7 linked regions of the Homo sapiens genome follow. The gene in region 4 interacts genetically with the main gene of each other region. Each region holds a gene or a part of one and is shown on either strand. Other genes may lie near its edges.

Region 1 (3,500 bases), on a different chromosome or scaffold from region 4:
TTCAAAACTTACCTCTTTTTGTATTTTAATTATCCAATTTTCATTAATGAGGATAATTTTCAGGCTAAAACACACCCACAAAATTATTTCATAAATTTCGCAGATGAGAAACTACTGCTCAGAAAAAGCTGGACTTGCCTAAAGCCACAAATACCATGGCAAAACTCCAGTTAGAAAACCCTTCTCAGTGGGTCTCACATTCCTGCACATTTTTTGAGTGAGGCACTAACTGCCCGGTTGCTCTGGACTATCTTTGCAAGGATATCTGCATAGCGAGCAGCCTTGAAAAACAGTCTTCCTCTAAAGCGAAGGGCAGATTTGCTTACTGTCCAGCATAATACAGATGCCTCTCTTGGGGCCGAAGGCAAGTCTGCTTGTGGTCCGTTATCCAAGGTTCCAGTTTTCTAAGCTCAGGAGATCTCAGCTATGATGCAAATCCACTGGGTGCACAGCATCCACCTGGGCCACTTCACGCCATCCCTCATAGGAGTTGGGGACAAAAGAGAAATGACGCAAACTTGATGCTTGTGCTGCTTGCTGTACAGTAAGTCCTTTGTTTCTGATGGTGTTCAGGAGACACTACTCCCAAAATATGGCATCTTGGCATACTGAAAATTTTACACTGGAGGAATCTGAAAAATGACGTGCAGGTAGGATTTTCTGACTGTCCCCTGAAGCAGGTCATAAAAGCATCTCACATAAGAGGTGCCCTCCCTACACTCAGAGGAAAGCAACATCCTTATCTCAGAAGAAGGGACAGAGAGAGGAATCTGAACAAAAGACTTGCTAAGTTTCTCCTGGCTTATTACTCTTCGTTCATACCCCTTGCTCCCATCATATTTCTTCACAACTTTCCACTCTTCATCAAAGCTAACATAAAAACACTCAGGTTCAACCAGTTCTTCGGTATTCATTTTCTTATGAAGGCTCCTGTGTCACCTAAAACTTTTGTGAAATAAAAGTGTATACCTTTCTCTTTGTTAATCTGTCTTTTGTTACAGGGACCCCAACTAATGAACTTCAAATGGGTGGAAGGAAAGGCTATTGTCCCTCCCCTACATCTCAGACCCAGAAGGTTCCTATCTTCCACCAGCATCAGTGAAAGTGTGGCAGGCTAACTTGTTAGTTTCAGGTCCCTATAGCTTCTGACTCCAAACAGACCACAAAACACAAGTATAAGATGTACAATAGCCAAAAATACTTCTTAAACAACTTGCTACGGCAAAGGAGGAATTAAACTGCCTATACTTGCACACTCTTTCTGGACCATATCCTTGGGGAAAAAAACAATAAGGCAATAGATAGCAAAATCTTTCATCTGGTAAATTTCACTCCTAGGAATTCACACTATATCGGGTTCCCTGGAAACAGACTCTGAGACAGACATATATGCAGAAAACTTAGCAGGCAGTGTTGTTCAGCAGATGCCCTTCTAGGAAAACAGAGAAAGAAGGATTGGGCAGAGGGAGAAGATAATGGGCAATGTGGCTACACTAAGGCCTCAGCCACATATGAGAGCTCTGGAGTCAGGAATGCCCTTCAGTTGTTCCAAGTTGAGGCACAGCAGCTAGATCATCATTCCCCTACATGGTCTAGCCACTGGCTAAAAGTGTCCCCTGTGAGGCAGTGTTAACACTGAATAGCCCTAATTATCTTCACTGAATTACAGACTGATACGGCTGACATTAAAAATGGGAAAGTCGAGACTTTCAGAGCACAGACACATGCAATCTCCAAATTCACAGAATAGTTAAGACAACACTAGCAAAAAAGGATACACAAACATAAGTGAGTAGAAAGGAATGGGTGTACTTCATATATTCAGATATAAGGAAATACACACAATGGTGACAATCACTGTGCTTTATGCCTGGTGTTATGGTGACTGTTTTACATATATTACCTCATCTACTTCTCGGAATGTACTGGACAGGTACTATCATCATACCCAATACACAAATGACACAAAACAGGTTAAGTAACTCACCCAAGGTGACAAGTAAACAACTGGCGGAGCTGGGCATCAAACCCAGGTCTGCCTGACTTCAGAGCCCATGTGCTTAATCAACCAATCCATTCCATGATCTCCCTATTTAGAGTGTTAAAAACAACAACTCAATACAACACGTATACCAAGGACATGTCATCCATTCACCCCTCCAGACCTACTTCCCGTCTTCACCTGTTTCTCTGGCCTGGGAGGCTGACTTGAACGTAATGCACGGAAGGGCTCCTTTGCTGCCAGGTACCTGGCTCCCTTGCTAGGATGACCTTGGGCTGGCCGTACCCGTGAATGGAGGTAGCAGCTCCTGTAAGGTGCTCTCTCTACACAACTTATCTGCAGATTCGGTAGCAGCTATTCCCCACCCACCCGTTGACTCTGCAAGCTCAGGTGGTAATCACTCCCACTACACATGCTAGGAGGTGCTGCACTGCCCCGAGGGGCCCCCCTATGCCCCACCCACACCTTGATAGTCTCTCCTCAGTCTGAGAGTGTCATCTTCTCCTGCCAACATCCTGAGCTGATATACACACCTATACATAAACAGGATGCTGAGTAATGGCAAAAAGGCATTATTTACCTTCCCAGAAAGAAATGTAAAGGTCATTTTCTGGGAATAATATGCTGTATTAGGGGAAAAATACTGGAAACAAGATAGAAACAGTCCTGCTCTTTAATAAACAACTGGAAGGAACACTTTGGCAAGTTTACTTAAGGCATAAAAGTAAATTATAGCTCCAGCAGCAAAGGTCCCTTCCTCCCTGTGACCCTGCCCCTGGCACTATCTTCTCCCTCCTCACCAACATCTTGCTTCCTCTGAGAAGCAGAGAAAAAAAGTACCTTCTCCCGATCCCTCCTGGTGGGACATACTTTCTATCTTTAGAGAAGGGTATCTAACCTTCAAACAATGTCCAGAGGTCAGCCAAATGAACAGGGGAATATAACATTCCAAATCAAAGCCCAAACATCAGGTACAGAATGGAAACACATAAATGTGCCTCAAGACAGTAAGCAGCATCTTCAGTCATTTGACCAAAGTTTAAGTAAAACTACCATACAACAGAGCTTACTAAGGTGAGGAAAGTATCAGGGAAAAATGAAAAATAGCTTCCAGAAGGATTCAGCTAAATTAATGGATGAAATAAATCCAACACTCCTTCATTCAAAATTGTTGATCAGGCACCAGCCAAGCTTAGGGGTGGGCCAGAAACTGTCTACCCCAGCCTTCAGCACTGACTAGCTGGGTGAAGCTGGGCAAGTTACCCTCCCTTAAGCTCAGTTCCTCAACTACAAAGTGACAGAATCATAGGAGGCAGTTCCTAAGTTTGCTACGAAGATTCAATAACTACAGATGTAAAGTGTTTAGCCCAGTTCCTGGTACACACTATAGATTCAGTAAATGTTAGCTAAAATGGATGGTATTACAAGTAGTAACAATTTAAAAGAAGAAACAAAAACTTCTGACCTGCCTTAAAATGCTCAACCTAATGAACTCTGT
Region 2 (2,670 bases), about 130 Mb from region 4:
CCCACCAACACACAGTTGTGCTCCACCATACTGAACCTGACTCTCAGTGAGACTTTGCTGGCCCTGAGAATGCACGGGGAAGGTGGCTGTCCCCTGCCTTGGCCCCCATCACTTGCCAAACCTCCTCAGATGTCTCCCCTATTTCCCTAATAGCTGAGCATTGAGGATTTCACAGCATATGGCGGTGTGTTTGGAAACAAGCAGGACAGCGCCTTTTCTAACCTAGAGGTGAGAGTCCTCTCCCAGCCAGGGGCCATGGGGGACATTCTGTGCTCCTTCTCCCAGCATAAGAACTGTACTCTGACCTCATATCAGGGTTACTTGGGTCTGAGTCTCTTCTGGGTCAACCATCCCCCCCAAAAACAACAACAACAACAAAAGCCACCTCATACTCTTAGGGAGCAGAGACGCTGGCTTTGGGGTAGAAAGGCCTGGGGCCTGAATGTCAGGGGCTGGGGTGTGGGCCATTTTCTTGGTGAGCCTTTATGGGTATGGCTTGCCAGAGGAGAGCTGCCAGAGAGGTGTGGGGGGCTGGGCCAGGCCCACTGGCCCCTGGCTAACTCACCTTTTGCCTCTCCCCTGTCCCCAGAATGCCCTGGACCTGGCCCCCTCCTCACTGGTGCTTCCTGCCGTCGACTGGTATGCAGTCAGCACTCTGACCACTTACCTGCAGGAGAAGCTCGGGGCCAGCCCCTTGCATGTGGACCTGGCCACCCTGCGGGAGCTGAAGCTCAATGCCAGCCTCCCTGCTCTGCTGCTCATTCGCCTGCCCTACACAGCCAGGTACTGCCCGCATGGCCCAGCCACCAGCCTCGGGGCCCAGAGAGCAGCAAGGCCCTGGGCTATGGCATGTGGTGGCACCGTTTGGCTAAAGATGCCAGTACTCCCCACCCCCTCACAGCCCTTCCAGAAGGTGCCCTGTGTGGCCAGAAGAGGAGGGGAGGGCCTCTTCTGTGACTCAGGAGTTGGTGCCTAGCACTGAGCTGGGCCTCCAGAGATGAGGCAGATGTGAGCCCTGCGGGTGGGGAGCCTTCTCACCTAGCCAGGCCCTTGTCACAGAGCAGGTGGCCAGGACTTGAGTGTGACTGAGAAGCCTCGGGGTGGGATGGGCTTCCAGGAGGGGGCACTGAGGTAAGAGTGTGCAGGCTTGGTGCGTGGGGCTAGTGGGGAGGAGAAGCTGGGGTCGGGGAAGGGTAGTGGGCAGTGCAGGTCCAGGCCGCCTGAGGACTCTGGCGCTCTGTTTGTCTTCCATAGCTCTGGTCTGATGGCACCCAGGGAAGTCCTCACAGGCAACGGTGAGTAGAATCAGGGAGGATGCACGTCCTCATCTAGCCCTTGGGTGGGGGCCACAGAGAGAGCTGGCCTGCAGTTCCTCGGCCTCCTCACTCCCAGGGTGGCCCGCCTGCTTCTCGGGGCAGCTGGCAGTGGAGCAGGGAAATGCTGGCTCCCAGGACCAGCCAGGGACCACCTGACAGAAGACCCTGTCCAGCCAGACCCCACTTGGCAGAGGGGGGCGGCTCTCTGTGCTGGAGGCTGTGGAGCCAGTTTCTGTGCAGGCAGCGTGAATCCTAGAGTTATGGGTTTAATAAGACTGCAGACATTTGGAAAAACAATTCTGGGGACTCATCTATTTGCAATAAAGGACAGTCACTCCCCATGGAAAGGCAGTCGTGAACCTTTCATGGGTGGATGTGGAGTTTTCTGTATTGATATGTATTTTCTTATGTCACATAGGTAGGGCTTGGCATTAGGGAATCGATGACTGAAGCCACAGTTGTCTCTGGGGGAGGCTGGGAATGGGGGTGGGATGAGAAGTAGCTGCTCCTAAGGATCCTCAGTGGAAAGTAAACACACCACTTTCAGATGGTCTAGAAGGTTTCTAAAGCAGACAGTGGGGAGTGTTTCTTTATGCAGGGTGCCTGGTGACCTGAGTCTCTGCTCTCCTTGTTGACCCTCAGATGAGGTCATCGGGCAGGTCCTGAGCACACTCAAGTCCGAAGATGTCCCATACACAGCGGCCCTCACAGCGGTCCGCCCTTCCAGGGTATGTGCCCTTCCAGCAGGGGCTCTGGGGCGTGCAGGGAGAGGCAGTGTGGTGAGTCTGCTTGGAGGTGGGGAGTGTATGCCACAGGTAGGCTGCCCAGGAGGCCCAGCATAGGGGAAGCATGAGGCACAGAACCCCTGTGGTGTGACTATTTGGAGTGGCTGACTCTGGGGGCAGGGCTAGGATGAGCACTCAAGTCCTGCCTCCCCATTCCAGGGGCAGCTTTCCATCTCGTCCTGTGAGGCTTGTGGGTGGCAGACTTGGACACTAAGTCTAAATGACCCTAAGTTTGAGGGACTAGGAATGTCATCAGGGTTTAGGGGGCATCAGGGAAGGCTTCCTGGAGGAAAGGTCTCCTCTGGCTGATGGGACTTTGAGATAGTGGACAGGGTGTCCTGTTGGGAGGGGAAGGAGGGCACGACAATTGGGTTCAAGTGTGACACTCTCCCAGGGCTGCTGAAAGAAGGCTGGTTGGGTGTTTCTGCAGGTGGCCCGTGATGTAGCCGTGGTGGCCGGAGGGCTAGGTCGCCAGCTGCTACAAAAACAGCCAGTATCACCTGTGATCCATCCTCCTGTGAGTTACAATGACACCGCTCCCCGGATCCTGTTCTGGGCCCAAAACTTCT
Region 3 (3,500 bases), on a different chromosome or scaffold from region 4:
TCAAACCATTGATAATTTCTTAATCGGAGATGAGGCGATAATTTACTGAATAAAACTACATTTCCTACTAGTCTTAACCCTTTTTTCATCTTTTTTTTTTTTGAGACGGAGTTTCGCTTTTGTTGCCCAGGCTGGAGTGCAATGGCGCAATCTCGGCTCACCGCAACCTCTGCCTCCCAGGTCCAAGCAATTCTCCTTCCTCAGCCTCTCGAGTAGCCGGGAGGAGCATGCGCCACCGTGCCCAGCCAATTTTGTATTTTTAGTAGAGACAGGATTTCTCCACGTTGGTCAGGCTGGTCCCCAACCTCAGGTTATCACCCGCCTCAGCCTCCCAAAGTGCTGGGATTACAGACATGAGCCACCATGCCCGGCACCTTTTTTCATTTTAATCTTAAAAATCAGGATGCAAGAAACCAAATCATAACTTGTCCTAACTTGACAAATAAATATATTTATATGACATCAAGCTTTATTTTAGTTCACTCCTAACTAAAAAAGACCAGCTTTGCCTTCAAAAAAGGAGAAGGTAGGATAAAAACTTGTATCTAAACAGTTAACTGAAAGATTGCTAAGACATGCTAGTTGACCATCAGTAAGAACATTAAACAAAAGCATTTTCTACTGTTCCTATATATTTCTTATGAGCAATGGTATAAGGATTTTGTTGAACATAAAGATAGATCAGAATTACAGCTAAAAGTTCACCCAAATCAGGTAGAAAAACATCTAAGGGAAAGCCTATAAGTACCTGATACTGAAATGGTAAGTGGTTGGTAAGTAGTGTCAAACACTACTCTAAGCACTTCACCTGAAAACACCACTAGGCAATAGGTGATATTATTCCCATTTTACAGATGAAGAAAGTGTCACCCAGGGAATATAACTTCCCCAAGGCTGCACAGTTAAGAAATGGTACAGGCAAGATTTGCCACAGACTATACATGGTTTTCTAAAATTTCTACAACACTATTTCCATTTATATACAGGAGTCAATTTTAAAATGAAATGTAAATATAAGCCAGGTCTCTTTTACTTAATATATTTAACAGATATTCTTCATACATTGGTTTATATTATAATAATTGATCAGTAAAGAAAATTATTACACTATAAAAGCACCCTGAAATGTTAAGTCAATATCATTGCTTAAATAATTTAGAAGCCAAATTAATGCTGGGTGTGAGAGTTGGGAAAATTATATTAGGACTAACAAAGCAGTGGTACTGGAATGCCAGCTATATTAATGAGTTTTGTATTAATTACATATTGAATGAAACAAAGATACAAAAGACAAAATCTAGATTTTGATTGTTTTCAAAACCGTCTCACACCCAAATGCAAAGCAGTTGGAAAGTACAAGCTGAGGGAGGACTAAAAGATGTTTTCTACATTCTTCTAAATAATGAGCCAATATAGTTTAAACTGACTGCTGAAAATAATTTCCTAAAGTCTTTATATGTATTTCCTTGAGTACCTTCTCACATTCAGACACTCAAGTTGTCCTATATACAATACCTAAAAATACAGGGAGGCCTTGACTGCAAAAAAAGTCCCCTCACTTTCACATAGAACTAGCACCCCTCGTCTTAACCTCTAAGACCACCTAAACAACCAAAGTACTGCTTAGCCACATCCCACACAACTATGAACAGCTGTACTGGTGGAATAAACTGTAGTAACAAAGCTAGGAATTTCTGTAAACAGTATGACCAACTGCCACTTTTAAATAAGGGATTAAATGAATCAAGGAAATGGGAGGCTCTTCCATGTTAAAAACTCAACACAAACTAAGACATACTTATCTGTAATCCAAACAGCATTACTGAAGCAATGGTGGAAAGGACAATGGCCGCTGCTGCAGAAAAGCCTTTCATGATGTTGTCTGTGTACTTAACCACAACAGAAGTGTAGAGGCCACCAACACTTGCAAGAACTTGTATACAGAGAGAAATAAAATCTTATCACTCAAATAAATGAAACATTACATAATGGTGAGGCAATTTTCATCCCCAGAGATGCCATACTTTACCTAGGAAAAGGAAAATACTGTTTTCCTTAGAAGGAGCCATCTGAGAGTTTGTACTAAAATTGGTAGTTCCTATATAACACTGTTTTTCCAAAACAATGCCCAGAGGGCTATGTGGTCTATTAAATTTTACACATTTTTTGCTAATGTTAGATATTTTGGGGCATTGCTATCCCAAAGCAATTTTGCCTTCACAATCAAAACTAAGTCAACAAAATGAAAATTATATTCAAACTGGTATTTACAGTATCAAAGGATTAATTTCAAAATGTTATAACAGCTTAAAATGGACATCTAACTTAAAAAAAAAATAAAGGATCTACTAAGAACCTTTAATTCCTGGATACTTACAGATGACAAACCAGACATAATATGTGTAACCATAGAAAAATCCTTTTTCTTTAATTTCAGCTCCATCTGACAAGTAGACGCCAGCTAATGTCACAATAATCCCTGATAGATACATTTGAATGTTTCTCACCCAAAGAGAAGTATCTGAACTCTTTAAAACTTTTTCAAAATATACTCCTGAAAGAAAATTAGACATGCAAATATTAAAGATTACTATAAATTAACTTAAAATGTCTTTCATTTAGAACAATACCCTAGAGATATATAAAGTATATGATTTGGGGAACAAAACATACTTTACTTAAATGTGCATTTATTATGTAGGTTGTGTGACACATGACATACTGTACATTATAAATTTATGTTTTTACAGAGTATATAGAATAATAACTAATTGGGAAGTTTATAAGCTACATTTAACAGAAGGCTGTTAAATTAAGACAGTTTCTGCCTTTATTAGAGCAGTAAGACCACAAAAGCTCTCTGTACTACTTAATGCCAGTATGTCATTTGCTTTGGTCAGCTGAAAAACTACATTAAGAGTGAATTATCTTAATCACATCCCTGTAATATCTGCCTACTAATGAATACTCCTAATTCTGCAATATAATCTATAATCACCACTAGGAATCTTTTCAGAGTAACAACCAAAACTGAAGTAGAATTTGCTGTGTAAAGCCATTTTCCTTTAAAGCAGGGTTCCACAAGCCAAGTTCATACACAAGGTCAGAAGGATCATGAACTCCCCAACTGGATAATAAATTTTGTGTATATGTGCATTTTTCTGGAGTTGAAGGTCCATAGATTTTTTCAGATACTTCAAAGGAGTACATGATACCCCTCCCCAACAAAAGTCCCCTATCTCTGGATTTATGCTTAAAATGAATGCATATTTTACAAAGCCATTAAAGATTTTAGTTATAAATATCATGCTAGAGACTTAGGAACTGCCAATGAAGTACTTATCAACTAAAAAGTCTAACGAAAAACAAGATTATTTTTGATGAGTCTGTTGGAATGGGAACATAAAATAGCTATTCTTATTTTCACCTCTGATTTTACCTTCTGGGAGAAGCATTTATCCAGTGCTCAGTTACCGTAAACACAGAGAGATATTAAACCA
Region 4 (3,500 bases):
CTCCCCTTATCCTTTCTGATAAATTTGAGAATCATTTTGACAACCACCAAATATTATTCAAATTAGGATTTTTTTTCTTTTTTTCTTTTTTTTTTTTTTTGAGACAGAGTCACGCTCTGTTGCCCAGTGGCGAGATCTCAGCTAACTGCAACCTCTGCCTCCTGGGTTCAAGTGATTCACCTGCCTCAGCCTCCCGAGTAGCTGGGATTACAGGCGCCCACCACCACGCCCGGCTAATTTTTTTGTAGTTTTAGTAGAGACAGGGTTTCACCATGTTGGCCAGACTGGTTTTGAACTCCTGACCTCAAGTGATCCGCCCACCTCGGCCTCCCAAAGCGCTAGGATTACAGGTGTGAGCCACTACGCCTGGCCCACATTAGGATTTCTAATGTCACTGCAATGACTGCAATAACTAGGGGTAAATCCATAATTTTACATTTCTGACATAGGAACACGACATCTGTTTACTGAAATCTTCTACATCTCTCAGTACAGATTTGTAGTTTCTCTATATAGGCCCTGTGTACTTCTTTTAAAATGTTAGTTTTTTATTTTTTATATGTCACATTACTTTCTGAATGAGATCTTTTCTTCCTATTACATGATCTGTTTCTTTCAGATACACAGGAATACTACATTTATTTTTGTATATTTACTTTGTAATTAATCACCAAACTGAACTTTCCATTTAGGATGTCTTAGTCTTTATTCTCTTGGATTTTCCATTATTTGCTAATAATAATCATTTATCTCCTCCAACATTCATACCTCATCTTTTCCTTCCTGTTTGGTCTTATAGCAATGACTGTAACTTCTAGAACACTTTTCAATAGTTGTGATGGAATGCCTTTTTTGCTTTCTTCATGATTTTAATAAAACAACAGCCAAGAAACAGTAGGACTTAGATGGAATTGAGGATCAATTTTATTCTGGTTTATATACTAAGCAATGAGACTGGGGCAACAGTAGAAAAATCAGAATATGGGAGACTCAGGGTTTAAAAATATCATGGGGCCGGGCACGGTGGCTCATGCCTGTAATCCCAGCATTTTGGGAGGCTGAGGTGGGCAGATCACTTGAGACCAGGAGTTTGAGACCAGCCTGGGTGACAGAAAGATACTCTGTCTCAAAGAAACAAAAAAACAAAACAAACAAACAAACAAAAATCATGGGTCAAGGGAGAAGAAAATCTATAGTTGTCATCAAGGCAGCAAGATACCCATAGACTTGAAGCTGGTGATTATTATTAAGCGGGGGCTAAGGGCTACCCCAATCAAGCCCTACTTATGCTTAGTGTGGTTTGCAAATAATAATAAAAAAAAACCACAACTACCTTAATTCTCTAAACACACAGAAATGATTTACAGGTCACCAGATGACTGAATAGGTAAAATAACAACTCAATATTCCTTGAATAACTCACAGTAGTTATAGCTGAAAGAATGTAAACTATCAATTTGGCAAGGCTTACACTGTGTTCTAAGTTTAAATTCCAGCTTACTATAATCACAACATCACTTTTATCACCAATGTTTTTTACTTTGCCCTCAAATAAACTTACAACTGGCTTATACAAATAAGAACAGGGTTTTCAATATTTAAGAAGGATTTAAAAACATTTAAGTATAGAAACAGAATGGTCAAATTTTACTTCCACTATTTATAAAGGAATTTTTAGCAACAAAGCATAGAGAATTTTTTTAAAGCAATCTACTCTTCACTTGGAACCAGATAGCAGGTATTGTTTAATCCCTCTTCTAAAAATTCTATACACCATAATTCAAAATTTAAACATCTTCATTTACAGTGTGCTCAGGAAGTATCTCATCTCATCTCTCTTTTTTCCCCACCAAATTTCAGACAGATGTTTAGTGGCTTTTTCTTTTCAAAATCAGTATATATTTCATTTTTTTTTTTTTAAAGAAATAGCCCCGTGTGGTAGCTCTAGCTCATGCCTGTAATCCCAGCACTTTGGGAGGCCGAGGTGGTTGTATCTCTTGAACCCAGGAGTTTGAGACCAGCCTGGGCAACATGGCAAGACCCGCCTCTCTACAAAAAATACAAAAATTAGCTGGGTGTGGTGGTGCACACCTGTGGTGCCAGCGACTTGGGAGACTGAGAAGTGGGATGATCACTTGAACCCAGGAGGTCGAGGCTGCAGTGAGCGGTGATTGTACCACTGCCCTTCAGCCTGGGTGACAGGGTGATATCCTGTCTCAGAAAAAAAAAAAAAAAAGAAAGAAAGAAAGAAAAAAAGAAAAAAACCTATTACATATACAACTTATTTTGCTTTTGAAACAGAGTTCTCACTCTGTCATCCAGCTGGAGTGCAGTGGTACAATCTCTGCTCACTGCAACCTCTGCCCCCCAGGCTCAAGCCATCCTCCCACCTCAGCCTCCTGAGTAGCTGGGACCACAGGCATGCACCACCATGCTCAGCTAATTTTTTGTATTTTTAGTAGAGACGGAATCTTGCCATGTTGCCCAGGCTGGTCTCAAACTTCTGAGCTCAAGTAACCTGCCCACCTCAGCCTCCCAAAGTGTTGGGATTAAAGGCGTGAGTCACCACACCTGGCCTATATATGCAACTCTTTAAAAGTAGCATTATAAAACTAGATTTATTGGGAGGCTGAGGCGGGTGGATCACCTGTGGTCAGGAGTTCGAGACCAGCCTGGCCAACGTGGTGAAACCCCATCTCTAAAAAAACATAAAAAATTAGCTGGGTGTGGTGGCAGGTGCCTGTAATCCCAGCTACTTCGGAGGCTGAGGCAGGAGAACCACTTGAACTCAGGAGGCGGAGGTTGCAGTGAGCCAAGATCGTGCCATTGCACTCCAGCCTGGGCAACAAGAGCAAAACTCCGTCTCAAACAAACAAACAAAAAACAAAACAAAACAAAACAAAAAACTAGATTTAAATGACACCCTGGACTTTTTACATGGAAGTGGGAAGACATTTTAGAAGCAATGAAATTATATTCCTAAATTTAAAACCAATAAAGTAGGCAGAGGGTACACACATATTTCTCTCTCCCTCTAAATACATAATTTATGTACATCCCTAAACTTTGAGGAACACACAGGTTTCCCACGTTGTCTTCCACTTTGATGGCTACACCACGGTGAGCTCACAGCTCAGCAAACATTTAGCAGGGATACTAAACTCTTCTTTTTAGAGACAATTCCAGATCTTTGAATTTGTCCTGTCTTGAATTCAGGGCAAGATAAGCATCTCCTCCCCACCCCTAACCTTGCCCCCTTGCCTGGGAAAGACGGCAGGGCAAAGCTGTTCAGCTGTCTACTAGGCTGACAACTCACAACTGGGAATGAGAAGTTAATGGGCTAGGTGATGTTTGGGATAGCGGGACTAGTTAGTTCTATACCATTTAATAAGCTCTGAAAGAGGTGCGTGGACCCAATTATTGGTGGGGATATATATAACCTTCTTTAGTCTTAGTTTTGGACATTAGGTGTCAATTTTAAGGAAAAAGAAGTCTCAGTA
Region 5 (3,500 bases), on a different chromosome or scaffold from region 4:
GAAACCCCATCTCTACTGAAAATACAAAATTAGGCTGGGCGCAGTGGCTCATGCCTGTAATCCCAGCACTTTGGGAGGCTGAGGCGGGCGGATCATGAAGTCAGGAGATCGAGACCATCCTGGCTAACATGGTGAAACCCCGTCTCTACTAAGAATACAAAAAAAATATTAGCCGGGCATGGTGGCAGGCGCCTGTAGTCCCAGCTATTTGGGAGGCTGAGGTAGGAGAATGGCGTGAACCTGGGAGGCGGAGCTTGCAGTGAGCTGAGATTGTGCCACTGCACTCCAGCCTGGGCAACAAGAGCGAGACTCTGTCTCAAAAAAAAACAAAAAACAAAAAACAAAAAAAAAATTAGCCAGGCGTGGAGGCACATGCCTATAATCCCAGCTACTCAGGAGGCTGAGGCAGGAAAATCGCTTGAACCCGGGAGGCGGAGGTTGCAGTGAGCCAAGATCGCGCTATTGCACTCCAGCCTGGGCAACAAGAGCGAAACTCCATCTCAAAAAAAAAAAAACACACAAACCATGTCTTCTGCTCAAGCCTGGGTGACAGAGTGAGATCCTGTCTCAAAAGAAAATAATAATAAAAATTAAAACCTGGGTATAGGGCCGGGTGCATTGGCTCACACTTAAAATCCCAGCACTTTGGGAGGCCAAGGTGGATGGATCACGTGAGGTCAGGAGTTCGAGACCAGCCTGACCAACATGGTGAAACCTTGTCTCTACTAAAAACACAAAAATTAGCCGGGTGTGATGGCACGTGCCTGTAATCCCAGCTACTTGGGAGGCTGAGGCAGGAGAATCGCGTGAACCCGGGAGGCGGAGGTTGCAGTGAGCCGAGATTGCGCCATTGCACTCCAGCCTGGACAATGAGAGTGAAACTCCATCTCAAAAACAAAAACCTGGGTATGTATCTAGAAGTGGAAAAACAAAAAAAGGAAATAAGTTATGAAAATAAAAACCATGTCTTGAGCTGGGTGCGCTGGTGTGTGCCTATATCCCTAGATTCTCAAGAGTTGAGACAGGAGGATCACTTGAGCCCAGGAGTTCAAGTCCAACTTGGGCAACATGACAAGACCCTTGTCTCTTTAAAAAAGCAACCCAAACCATGTCTTGAAAAGCTATTTAATGGTCAGACACGATGGCTCACGCCTGTAATCCCAGCACTTTGGGAGGCCGAGGCAGGCGGATCACTTGAGGTCAGGAGTTCAAGACCAGCCTGGCCAACATGGCAAAACCCAGTCTCTACTGAATGAAAATACAAAAATTAGCTGGCCTAGCAGTTGGTGGTGGCAGGTGCCTGTAGTCCCAGCTACTTGGGAGGCTGAGGCAGGAGAATCGCTTGAATTTGGGAGGCGGAGGTTACAGTGAACCCACATGGCGCCACTGCACTCCAGCTTGGGTGATAGAGTGAGACTCTATCTCAAAAAAAAAAAAAAAGAAAAGCTATTTAAGGAACCAAAACATAGTTTGACTGACTGCAAGAAGTATCACAGGGAATGTTAGAGTGTTTTATTAATTTCTTTGTCAGACAAGTGTTTAGGAAACTCTCACTCCAGGCCTAATGCTGTGCTAGGCTCTGCAAATGCTAAGAGGGGGAAGTTACTGTCCCTGCTTCCAAGGAGATCATGGTCTAGTGGGAAACCCGACACGTTCAGGTACCTTCAGATGGGCACTCAGAAGAGTAAGCCCTTAGTTAATGTTTAAAGATGTTTAAAGATGTCTGAGACTCATAGGTCAAAGTCAGATTTCAGTTCCACCTTATTAGACCTGCACTGCTAAGGAGCTGCTTTAGGTAAGGCTGTGTTCCTAGTCACCAGGGTGTTCAAACACAGTGCTGGGGGCAATGTGGGAATAGCCTTCTTTTATTTAGGAAGTAATGTGAAGTCAGTTTCATGAATAGATCTTACTTTAAGCATTCATTGAGGTTTTTGGCAAGAATAGAGTACGGTATATGAAGGTGTTTCCTAATCTCCCTGACACCAGGAATAATCTAGGGCTCATTAGAGATGTCAAAGATCTGTTCTAGTTTCTTAACCTAAAACAAGAGTGTTTTAGTTCCATTTTATAGGCGGGGAGTCTGAGCCAAACATGTTATGTCACTTTCCAAGTCTCCATAGCACAGAAGTCTTCTGTCTCCCCATCCTGACTTTCCCAGCTCATAGGGACTGTCAAAGGCAGCAGCTCTGGCCGGCTGTGATGCCTCATGCCTGTAATCCCAGTAATTTGGGAGGCTGAGGCAGGAGGATCATTTGAACCCAGGGGTTCAAAACCAGCCTGAGCAACATAGTGGGACCCTGTCTCTACAAAAAATAAATTAAAAAAAAAAAATAGCCAGGCATGGGGTATGTGCCTATGGTCTCAGGAACTCAGGAAGCTGAAGTGGGAGGATCACTTGAGCCTGGGAGTTAGAGGCTACAGTGAGCTGTGACTGCACCACTGCACTGGATAATAGTGAGACTCTGTCCCCTACCAAAAAAAAGCAAAACTATATACAGATATAAAGTAGCAGCTCTGTTGCTGATAGAAGGAACAGTAATGAGGAGCCCTGCAGGTCTTATTCCACTCTTTCTAGCTGCAAGCTTTCTTCCTGGTGGCAGATGACATCATGGATTCATCCCTTACCCGCCGGGGACAGATCTGCTGGTATCAGAAGGTAATGTGGGCAGGAAAATAGCAGTGGGTATGGGGACAGGCCACAGGGAGGTGGTTATATATGGCCTGGTTGAGGTGTTGGGGTGATGGCTCTTAGTATGAACCGAGACTAGAGATTGATTGCTTGTTTTTCTGTCTGTCATGACAGCCGGGCGTGGGTTTGGATGCCATCAATGATGCTAACCTCCTGGAAGCATGTATCTACCGCCTGCTGAAGCTCTATTGCCGGGAGCAGCCCTATTACCTGAACCTGATCGAGCTCTTCCTGCAGGTGTATTGCAGACAGGGCCCGATGCCCAGAGGGTGCCCATGGTAGCCTTGGCCTCTATAGGACATGCTCATCTAGCTGGTTTCAGGGTACAGGATTGCAGCGTGCCTGGAAGGGAAAGAAAGCGAGGAAGGGTGTTGGGAAGTGGGGTTGTGGTAGTGGCAAGAAAGGGCTTCTCTGTCCTGTGTAATTGGAAGAAAGGGTGATAAAGGACTGTGTGTATGAATATGGGCCTTAAGTTTTGGGGCTTTCTCCCCTTCTGTTGCCTTTCTGATTCTGCCCAGTTGTCAGCTGGTATGGGATGTTGGGCTTGGGATACCAGGGTTTCGCATATCTGGAGAAAGCCTGGCTCATGGACCGTCTTTGTCTTGCTTAGAGTTCCTATCAGACTGAGATTGGGCAGACCCTGGACCTCCTCACAGCCCCCCAGGGCAATGTGGATCTTGTCAGATTCACTGAAAAGAGGTGAGGGGAGGTGAGGGACAGCGCGAACCATGTCTGGACAGCGAGGGAGGGCTCAGGATGTGCATTGCCCTCCTGAGGAGTTTCTCTTCTCCCCTTACTCAGGTACAAATCT
Region 6 (3,246 bases), on a different chromosome or scaffold from region 4:
GGCTTCTGTTGAGAGTGATCGGGGAGTAGAGGAAGGTATAGTAGTTGCTACAAGGAACTGACTTGCAGGGCTGAGCAGAGTCACTGAAGGCAGCTGACCAATGGGAAACTACTGTTTGGTGGTGATTCAACTCCTGGCGAGACAGGTCTGAGACAAGTTTGGATTTTGATCCTGGTTCTGCCTCTTCATTAGCTAAATATCCTTGGCCAAATAACCTAAACTTGCTGAACCTCAGAAGTCCACATGAAAAAACTGAAAAGGTTGAGTATCATTCCATGCTTGGGGTTCAGCTGTGTGAGTGCAGAGTAAAAGTTATTGGCAAGAAGGTGGTTTAAATAAGGTCTTCGTTCATTAGAAATGGAAACCTGGCTCCTGGGCCTGTAATCCCAGCACGTTAGGAGGCCCAGACAGGTGGAAACAGAGACATAGAGAACTCAACAAGGAAGGTTCTCCTTCAGGCCAGGGACTCCTCCCCTCTCTCACACTCAAAACCATCAATATTTGAAGCAAAAAAGGAAAAAAAGTTGCCAAGCTTTATTTAGGCTGTAATGGTTACAGATAACACACATCTAACCCTATATTCCGTGCTTCCCATGCAGTCCCCTAAGCAGACTCAGCTACCCTTTCCCTCCAGTCTCACTTCTTGTCTTCCTCCTTCTTGTCCTTCTTGCCGTCCTTGGTGGCCTGGGAGGCCAGGGAGCCCATAGCATTTCGAATGGCTTCATTGTTGGGATCCACACCTGGGAGGTTCTCTAGGACACTCTGAAGGAACTCGGGGTCCTGCATCACGTCGTAATCATCCTCCTCCTGCAAACAGGCAGTGTGAGCTCAAGGGAGGGTATGGAGCGGCAGGAAGTAAGCAGGTGTTAAGGACAGGAGCATGCCGCTGCCAGAGGCCCCCTGCCTTCTGACTGTGTGGGGATCTGGGCACCTCTGGTCGACGTAAGGAAAGGACAAGTCAGCAAAATCCTTTATACAGCATGAATGCAGTTATTACTAACCAAATAGAGGGGCCTGCTGAGAACTCTGTTAATTGAGCTCTGAGGAGAAAAACAGATGCCATCACATTGAGGTTTCCTGCTCTCAAGACACCCAGTTCTCCTTTTTCTTTTTCCCAGACCCGCTTTTTTCCCTCCTGGGAAGACATCCTAGAGAACTGCCCAGGCTGCTCCCACCAGCAAGAAAGGAAAATTACAGAACAAGAGGACATTTCTCCAACTCTGACCATTAGCATTGCTACCTTAGCAAGGTTTACATGTAAGAAATGCAAATCCATGTGTTTCCCTCTGCTCCTCAAAGGACTTAGCTATGGTAGAAATACTCCCAGCCCCAGAGGGATGAGGATCTAAATTCAAGGACTTTAAACCTGATGGGGGCAGGGTTGGGTCTCACCTTGGCTGGCTCAGATGTGTCCATAGCTGAGCTGGCATCAATGTCTGCTGATTCCGCCTGGCCAAACTCTGAGGAAGAGAGGTCAGTCTGTTCAGTTACACTTCCTCACCCCAACCTCTGCCTAGGCACCACCCAGGCTCTGGCTCACCTGCTCCCTGCAGGGACATCTGCATGGCATAAGCAATCTGCTCTTCCTCAGTCATACTGCTTAGGTCAGGAAGCCCAGTGCGGCCAAACTCTTGCTGGCTGATGGTCATCTTCAGCAGGGCATCGTCTGAGTCTGGGAAAAGGAAAAGAGGAGCAGGGTAGAATTGGTGCCATATCCACACAGGCCAGCCTCCAAGGCCATTCCTAGCCCAGCCCTCCCACATATTCCTACCCTGTCAGACCTCCACACTCTCCCTGCAGTGCCTACACCCAGCTTTCAATGTTTAGCATCCCGCAGTCCCAGGACTTCGGATTCCACCTCTTTCACCTTCAGTCCCAGTCGTAGCAATCCCGGCCTCAGCAGCAGAAGCTGCAGCTGCCCGCCGGGCCTCCTCCTCCTGCCGCTGCCGCTGCTCTTCCATAGATACACGAAGGGCCTGGTGAAGGGCAGGGCATAATCAGGGCTCCCCTGCCCTCACTCCTACAGGGAGCTGGGAAAGTCAGTTGGGGTGTGGGAAAGGAACATAAAGGGGCAGCTTCTGGTTTATCACACAGAGAAGAAGCTGGAGGGATAAGCAGTGGTACGGGATTAAAAAGTAAGGACTTGGGAGAAGCCTCGGTTTTCATCAGAAGTGAACAAGAAAGCATCTGACACTGGTGCCCCTAGAGATCAGACAGCATTATAGGGAAGAGGCGGCAAAAGGAGGTCTTGGAAAATGAGTGATTGGTAGTGTCTAGGACTATCCAGCCTGATAGAAGCTCTGTGATGTGTGTGCCAGAAGAGAACAAAGAGGGACCTTTGGACTCTACCTGGGGTCAACATTTGCTCACCAAGGCCAGCTCAGGATCAGCACTGGGATCTACTCCAAATTCAAAGTCACTGGCACCAAGACCCAGCATGGCACCACCTTCACCAGCCAAAATCGGAGAACTGATGAGAGCATCAGCCAAACTGGGCCCAGGAGGCACTGTCACCAGATGAGAACCGGTTCCATCTTTGCCATTCAACGTGTTTACAAAGGCTGTCAGCTTTTCTGTGTTCACCTCCTGGGGAGGAAAGAACACATGATGCCCTTCTTCAGGCCTTGCTCCCTGTTCTTTCCCATTTCTGCACTACTCTGCCACAGTACCCGCACTCCTCAGGGTTAAGGACCATTCTGTTTATGACCAAATTAAGTCAATGCCCTCCAATCAGTCCCTACTCACCTCTTCCCCAAAATTGATAATGTCAACATTTACTTTCTCCTTCTTGAGGCGTTTAGCCAGTTTCACCAGCTGGGAAGAAGGGGAGAAAAATCAAGAAATCTGTTCCATACTCGAGGGGGGGAAAGGACCCGCCGCATAAAAGCATACAGAAATCTATTGACCTCCCCAAGGTCCTCCAACAGAATCACTGAATTCTCCACATTCACCTTTCCCCAAAGTGATGAGCCTGATGCCTCTGCCAGGTTCTCCTGAGGGCTGGAAGACCTCAGTCCCAAACATGGGCTCCCCACATTCCCCAGCTGCCACTTGGACTCACATCCTTCTCATTGTCCTCCACTGGGCTTCCCACAAAGGCAATGATGCGCATCTTGTGATTCTTGCCTTGTCGGTGCTTCAGAGCCAGCTTGTAAAGGGAGAGGAAGTTCTCAGAGTTAACCAGAGGAATCACTCAGCTCTTTCCTCTGTCACTCGGTTCCCTTTTTCTTACAGTTTCTTTGTACC
Region 7 (3,500 bases), on a different chromosome or scaffold from region 4:
TGATTTGAACTTGATTTGACTATTTTCTACTCTGAAAAGAAGCTTGCAGGTATTATAAGAACATACCTCTTGGGTTTGTTTTCTGGCTACTTGAGAAAAAAGATCTTCACAAAATCTTGGAATTATTCCTGGTTCTTCACTAAATCCCATCATCCTGAAAAATACATTATGAATAAGGGGGAAATAAAACTAATTCTTTCTTTAAAATTCTTTTTGGGGAAATAGGCTGGGAAGGGAGTAGGAAGCAAGTTCACTGAATCTCATAATTAAGAATCTGGACTCTGGAGTCAAATCTGCCTGAGTCCAAATCTTGACTCCAAGATATTTAACCTCACTAAACTTCAATTTCCTCTACTGTAAAACAGGAATAATACAACTATCTAATTCAGAGAATTGTTGTGAAAGAATATAAGCAAAGTCTTTAGCACAGTGTCTGGAATATAGTAAGAACTCAAATGTTGGGCAACCCGCTTGGGACCCCTCCACGCTGTGGACTGTGGAAGCTCTGTTCTTTCGCTCTTCACAACAAACCTTGCTACAAAAAAAAAAAAAAAAAAAAAAAAAAAAGAACTCAAATGTTAGCTACTGTTAAAATGCTGAGTATTTCTTTCTAGGACAGGTATTATTATCATAGCTACCATTTATCAGATGCCCCTCCACCCTTTTTTCTTAAGAGATGGGGACTAAGTTGCCCAGGCTGGACTCGAACTCCTGCACTTAAGCAATCCTCCTACCTCAGCTTCCCAAGTAGCTGAGACTACAGGTGTGTGCCATCACATCTAGCTTAGATGCCTTACTTTTAATTCTCACCAAAATACTTAAAAGATAACCTCTCTAGGCCTTAGTTTATGTAAAATATATAAAGTACAGTAAAATGGGGCCAATGATAATTACAAGATGAATTGTATCAAGGTAAATGTATAAACTGAAGCCCAGAGGCTAAGTAAATTGCCCAAGTTTGCAGAACTGGTATATAAAATGGATGAGATTTGGGCCAAGATCTGTGTGATTTCAAAACTATATTCTTTCTATCACCCCTATGCCACTTCTCACAAAAGTATATTTAAACACTTCTGGATAATTGCATTTCCAATACAACTTACGTATATGATTTTCCAGAGCCAGTCTGACCATAAGCAAAAAGACAGGTATTGAAGCCTTCGAAGGCTCTTTCTAGGAGTGGTGCTGCTAGCTTCTCATAGACAGTTGTCTGGCTAGCGTAGTGAGGATGACATTCATCAAAAGACCAGAATGAAACATCATAAATAAAATTATAAACTTGTTTCGTGTCAGGGTGTTCCACAGTTATTTCTTTCCCACTCATGAAGACTACCTGGGATGCTTTTTCAATCTTCTCTCTTGAAAGAAGCACAAAGAAAAAAATCAAGTAACTAAAATGATCAAGGGTATTATTCTCACAGAACATAATAAATACCTCAAAACTATTTAAACAATCTTCCAAGGCAAGATAATTCTGTAGTTTTATGTGGAAAATGCAGATAAGCAAACATAATTCTAGTGGGTTTCCAAAATATATTTCCTGAGGCTCCAGTGCCACCAAAGGGAAAATCCCAGATTCCTCCAGAAAACCTATCCTACTTTTACAAGATTTTTTCCTCTTTTTTTTTTCTCTTGAACTATACCTTTTCCCATCCCACCTACTATAATCTACCTATACTCTTCATCCAAATCTACATCTTTATTATACAAATTTGGGGGGGTACCAATCTAAATAAAGCTGGCATAAAATACAAATATCTAATTTTAACAAACTCAGTTGACTGTAAGTTTCAATCATAAGTCTCTCTTGGCTACTAAAGATCTCTCCTCCTTCCTCTAGATTCTCTCCCTTAAAATCATGAATCTTTCTGTATATCCTTTTTCCCTTTGAGACTTAGGTGGAAATCTTTCATTTACTTTAGATCTACAGAAAAACATCATCACTCTTTGTCTGGCTCCAGATATACACTCCCTCCCCGCTCCATCCCTGACTCTGAGACTGCTTTAAATCAGAATTTATTCTGGAAAAAACACCTGCCTCATCAATTTGACAAGTACTCTACCCTGGCCCTGCTTTCAAGGCTTGTCTGATGAGTTTGGAATCAGGCACTTGGTCCCTTACTAAGTTCAGTATAGTCATCCATCTTGCATTTTGTCCCTACCAGCTCTTTCTATTGTTTCTCTTCCTATCATGGTTCTTGAGGCTCTATTAGACATTCCAATTCTCTCAAACCAACTCACCCTCAGTTCTCCCTCTTAATACTAACCCATTTGCACGAAAAAGATTCTACAGTACTGTATAACTTGCCTTTAACTACTGACCCCTTAGGTTCAAACTGGAGGTTCCTGCCCTGATGCAGTGGTCACCAAATCCTCTTCTAACTTGCTTAGATACACAGCTTCAAGTTAAACACTACTAACTCTGTGAAGTTTTTCACTGTCCCTTAAAATATTTTAAACAACTACATTAAAATATTTTAAAACAATTACATTTTGTCACATTCACATTTTGTCATGTCCATCTTTTCCAACCTTATCTTTAATCTGTGTCTTCCCCACCCACAACCACTTTTAGAGAGAGATTTTTTGCCATCAAAATCAAATCTAATGTATCACTGCATTTATAACTACTATATAGTAATCGGAGACAATGATGATGATAATCACCACTCTGGAAAGGGTTTTGAAAGGACCTCTTTAGGGAACCAGTAATTTGTTATGGCTCTTCTTTTTTTTGAGACAGTCTCGTTCTGTCGCCCAGGCTGGAGTGCAGTGGCCTGATGTCAGCTCAATGCAGCCTCTGCCTCCCGGGTTCAAGTGATTCTCCTGCCTCAGCCTCCCGAGTAGCTGGGATTACAGGTGTGCAACACCATGCCCAGCTAATTTTTGTATTTTTAGTAGAGACAGGGTATCACCATATTGGCCAGGCTGGTCTCAAACCCCTGGCCTCAAGTGATCTGCCTGCCTTGACCTCCCAAAGCAATGGGATTACAGGCGTGACCCACCACACCTGGCCTGTTATGGCTCTTTTTAAGGGATAGGTATAACATTCCAGCATATATTGCAGATCTGAAAGCAGATTTCATTAGAGACCTAAGTGACTTATTCAGACTTTTTAAAAGCAATATATCTAGAGAAACTTCAATATACAAAATATGGTGATTCAATTTTTTAATTTTATAGTCAGTGATCAAAAATTATCAACACACACTACAACTAGACCTAAAAGTTCTTTCTATATAAAAGTATTGCCAACAAGTTTGAAGATGCACGAATACACTGACCTTCCAAAGGCAGAGAGGAATTAAAGGTACCTTACATGTAACTGCTTGGCTTTAGATTTTAAAAGGCATCACATACCTCTTGGTGAAAGGTCTTACGCGTACTGCCACTGTCACTTGACTATTCTCTACTTTTAAGGGGTCTTTTCCTGCAGAGGTGTTCTGAACTACAGTTTCTTCTTCGGGAAGAATTGTATTTTCTGCGGATCTTTCCTGTTT

Evidence for each region.
Region 1: changes in MBTPS2 (region 4) and MPHOSPH6 together harm fitness less than expected from each alone (positive genetic interaction), as found in Homo sapiens cells (one large-scale study listed by BioGRID).
Region 2: changes in MBTPS2 (region 4) and ATP6AP1 together harm fitness more than expected from each alone (negative genetic interaction), as found in Homo sapiens cells (one large-scale study listed by BioGRID).
Region 3: changes in MBTPS2 (region 4) and SLC35A1 together harm fitness more than expected from each alone (negative genetic interaction), as found in Homo sapiens cells (one large-scale study listed by BioGRID).
Region 5: changes in MBTPS2 (region 4) and FDPS together harm fitness less than expected from each alone (positive genetic interaction), as found in Homo sapiens cells (one large-scale study listed by BioGRID).
Region 6: changes in MBTPS2 (region 4) and PSMD4 together harm fitness less than expected from each alone (positive genetic interaction), as found in Homo sapiens cells (one large-scale study listed by BioGRID).
Region 7: changes in MBTPS2 (region 4) and KIF14 together harm fitness more than expected from each alone (negative genetic interaction), as found in Homo sapiens cells (one large-scale study listed by BioGRID).

Annotation. Positions count from the first base shown.
Region 1 is NC_000016.10:82,160,225-82,163,724, forward strand, and holds part of MPHOSPH6 (M-phase phosphoprotein 6), read right to left. Parts: intron 1-3,500. UniProt on the Homo sapiens protein: RNA-binding protein that associates with the RNA exosome complex. Involved in the 3'-processing of the 7S pre-RNA to the mature 5.8S rRNA and play a role in recruiting the RNA exosome complex to pre-rRNA; this function may include C1D.
Region 2 is NC_000023.11:154,431,677-154,434,346, forward strand, and holds part of ATP6AP1 (V-type proton ATPase subunit S1 precursor), read left to right. Parts: intron 1-153; coding exon 154-228; intron 229-589; coding exon 590-783; intron 784-1,254; coding exon 1,255-1,295; intron 1,296-1,958; coding exon 1,959-2,044; intron 2,045-2,531; coding exon 2,532-2,670. UniProt on the Homo sapiens protein: Accessory subunit of the proton-transporting vacuolar (V)-ATPase protein pump, which is required for luminal acidification of secretory vesicles.
Region 3 is NC_000006.12:87,507,474-87,510,973, reverse strand, and holds part of SLC35A1 (CMP-sialic acid transporter), read right to left. Parts: intron 2,555-3,500; coding exon 2,378-2,554; intron 1,934-2,377; coding exon 1,799-1,933; intron 1-1,798. UniProt on the Homo sapiens protein: Transports CMP-sialic acid from the cytosol into the Golgi apparatus, functioning as an antiporter that exchanges CMP-sialic acid for CMP. Binds both CMP-sialic acid and free CMP, but has higher affinity for free CMP.
Region 4 is NC_000023.11:21,863,617-21,867,116, reverse strand, and holds part of MBTPS2 (membrane-bound transcription factor site-2 protease), read right to left. Parts: intron 1-3,500. UniProt on the Homo sapiens protein: Zinc metalloprotease that mediates intramembrane proteolysis of proteins such as ATF6, ATF6B, SREBF1/SREBP1 and SREBF2/SREBP2.
Region 5 is NC_000001.11:155,315,366-155,318,865, forward strand, and holds part of FDPS (farnesyl pyrophosphate synthase), read left to right. Parts: intron 1-1,488; exon of another isoform or gene 1,489-2,575; coding exon 2,576-2,656; intron 2,657-2,803; coding exon 2,804-2,926; exon of another isoform or gene 2,927-3,031; intron 3,032-3,299; coding exon 3,300-3,388; intron 3,389-3,490; coding exon 3,491-3,500. UniProt on the Homo sapiens protein: Key enzyme in isoprenoid biosynthesis which catalyzes the formation of farnesyl diphosphate (FPP), a precursor for several classes of essential metabolites including sterols, dolichols, carotenoids, and ubiquinones.
Region 6 is NC_000001.11:151,264,734-151,267,979, reverse strand, and holds the end of PSMD4 (26S proteasome non-ATPase regulatory subunit 4), read right to left. Parts: intron 3,149-3,246; coding exon 3,062-3,148; intron 2,815-3,061; coding exon 2,746-2,814; intron 2,587-2,745; coding exon 2,371-2,586; intron 1,977-2,370; coding exon 1,868-1,976; coding exon of another isoform or gene 1,859-1,867; intron 1,673-1,858; coding exon 1,541-1,672; intron 1,461-1,540; coding exon 1,393-1,460; intron 808-1,392; coding exon 637-807; 3' UTR 501-636; downstream 1-500. UniProt on the Homo sapiens protein: Component of the 26S proteasome, a multiprotein complex involved in the ATP-dependent degradation of ubiquitinated proteins.
Region 7 is NC_000001.11:200,614,252-200,617,751, forward strand, and holds part of KIF14 (kinesin-like protein KIF14), read right to left. Parts: coding exon 3,361-3,500; intron 1,359-3,360; coding exon 1,104-1,358; intron 155-1,103; coding exon 67-154; intron 1-66. UniProt on the Homo sapiens protein: Microtubule motor protein that binds to microtubules with high affinity through each tubulin heterodimer and has an ATPase activity. Plays a role in many processes like cell division, cytokinesis and also in cell proliferation and apoptosis.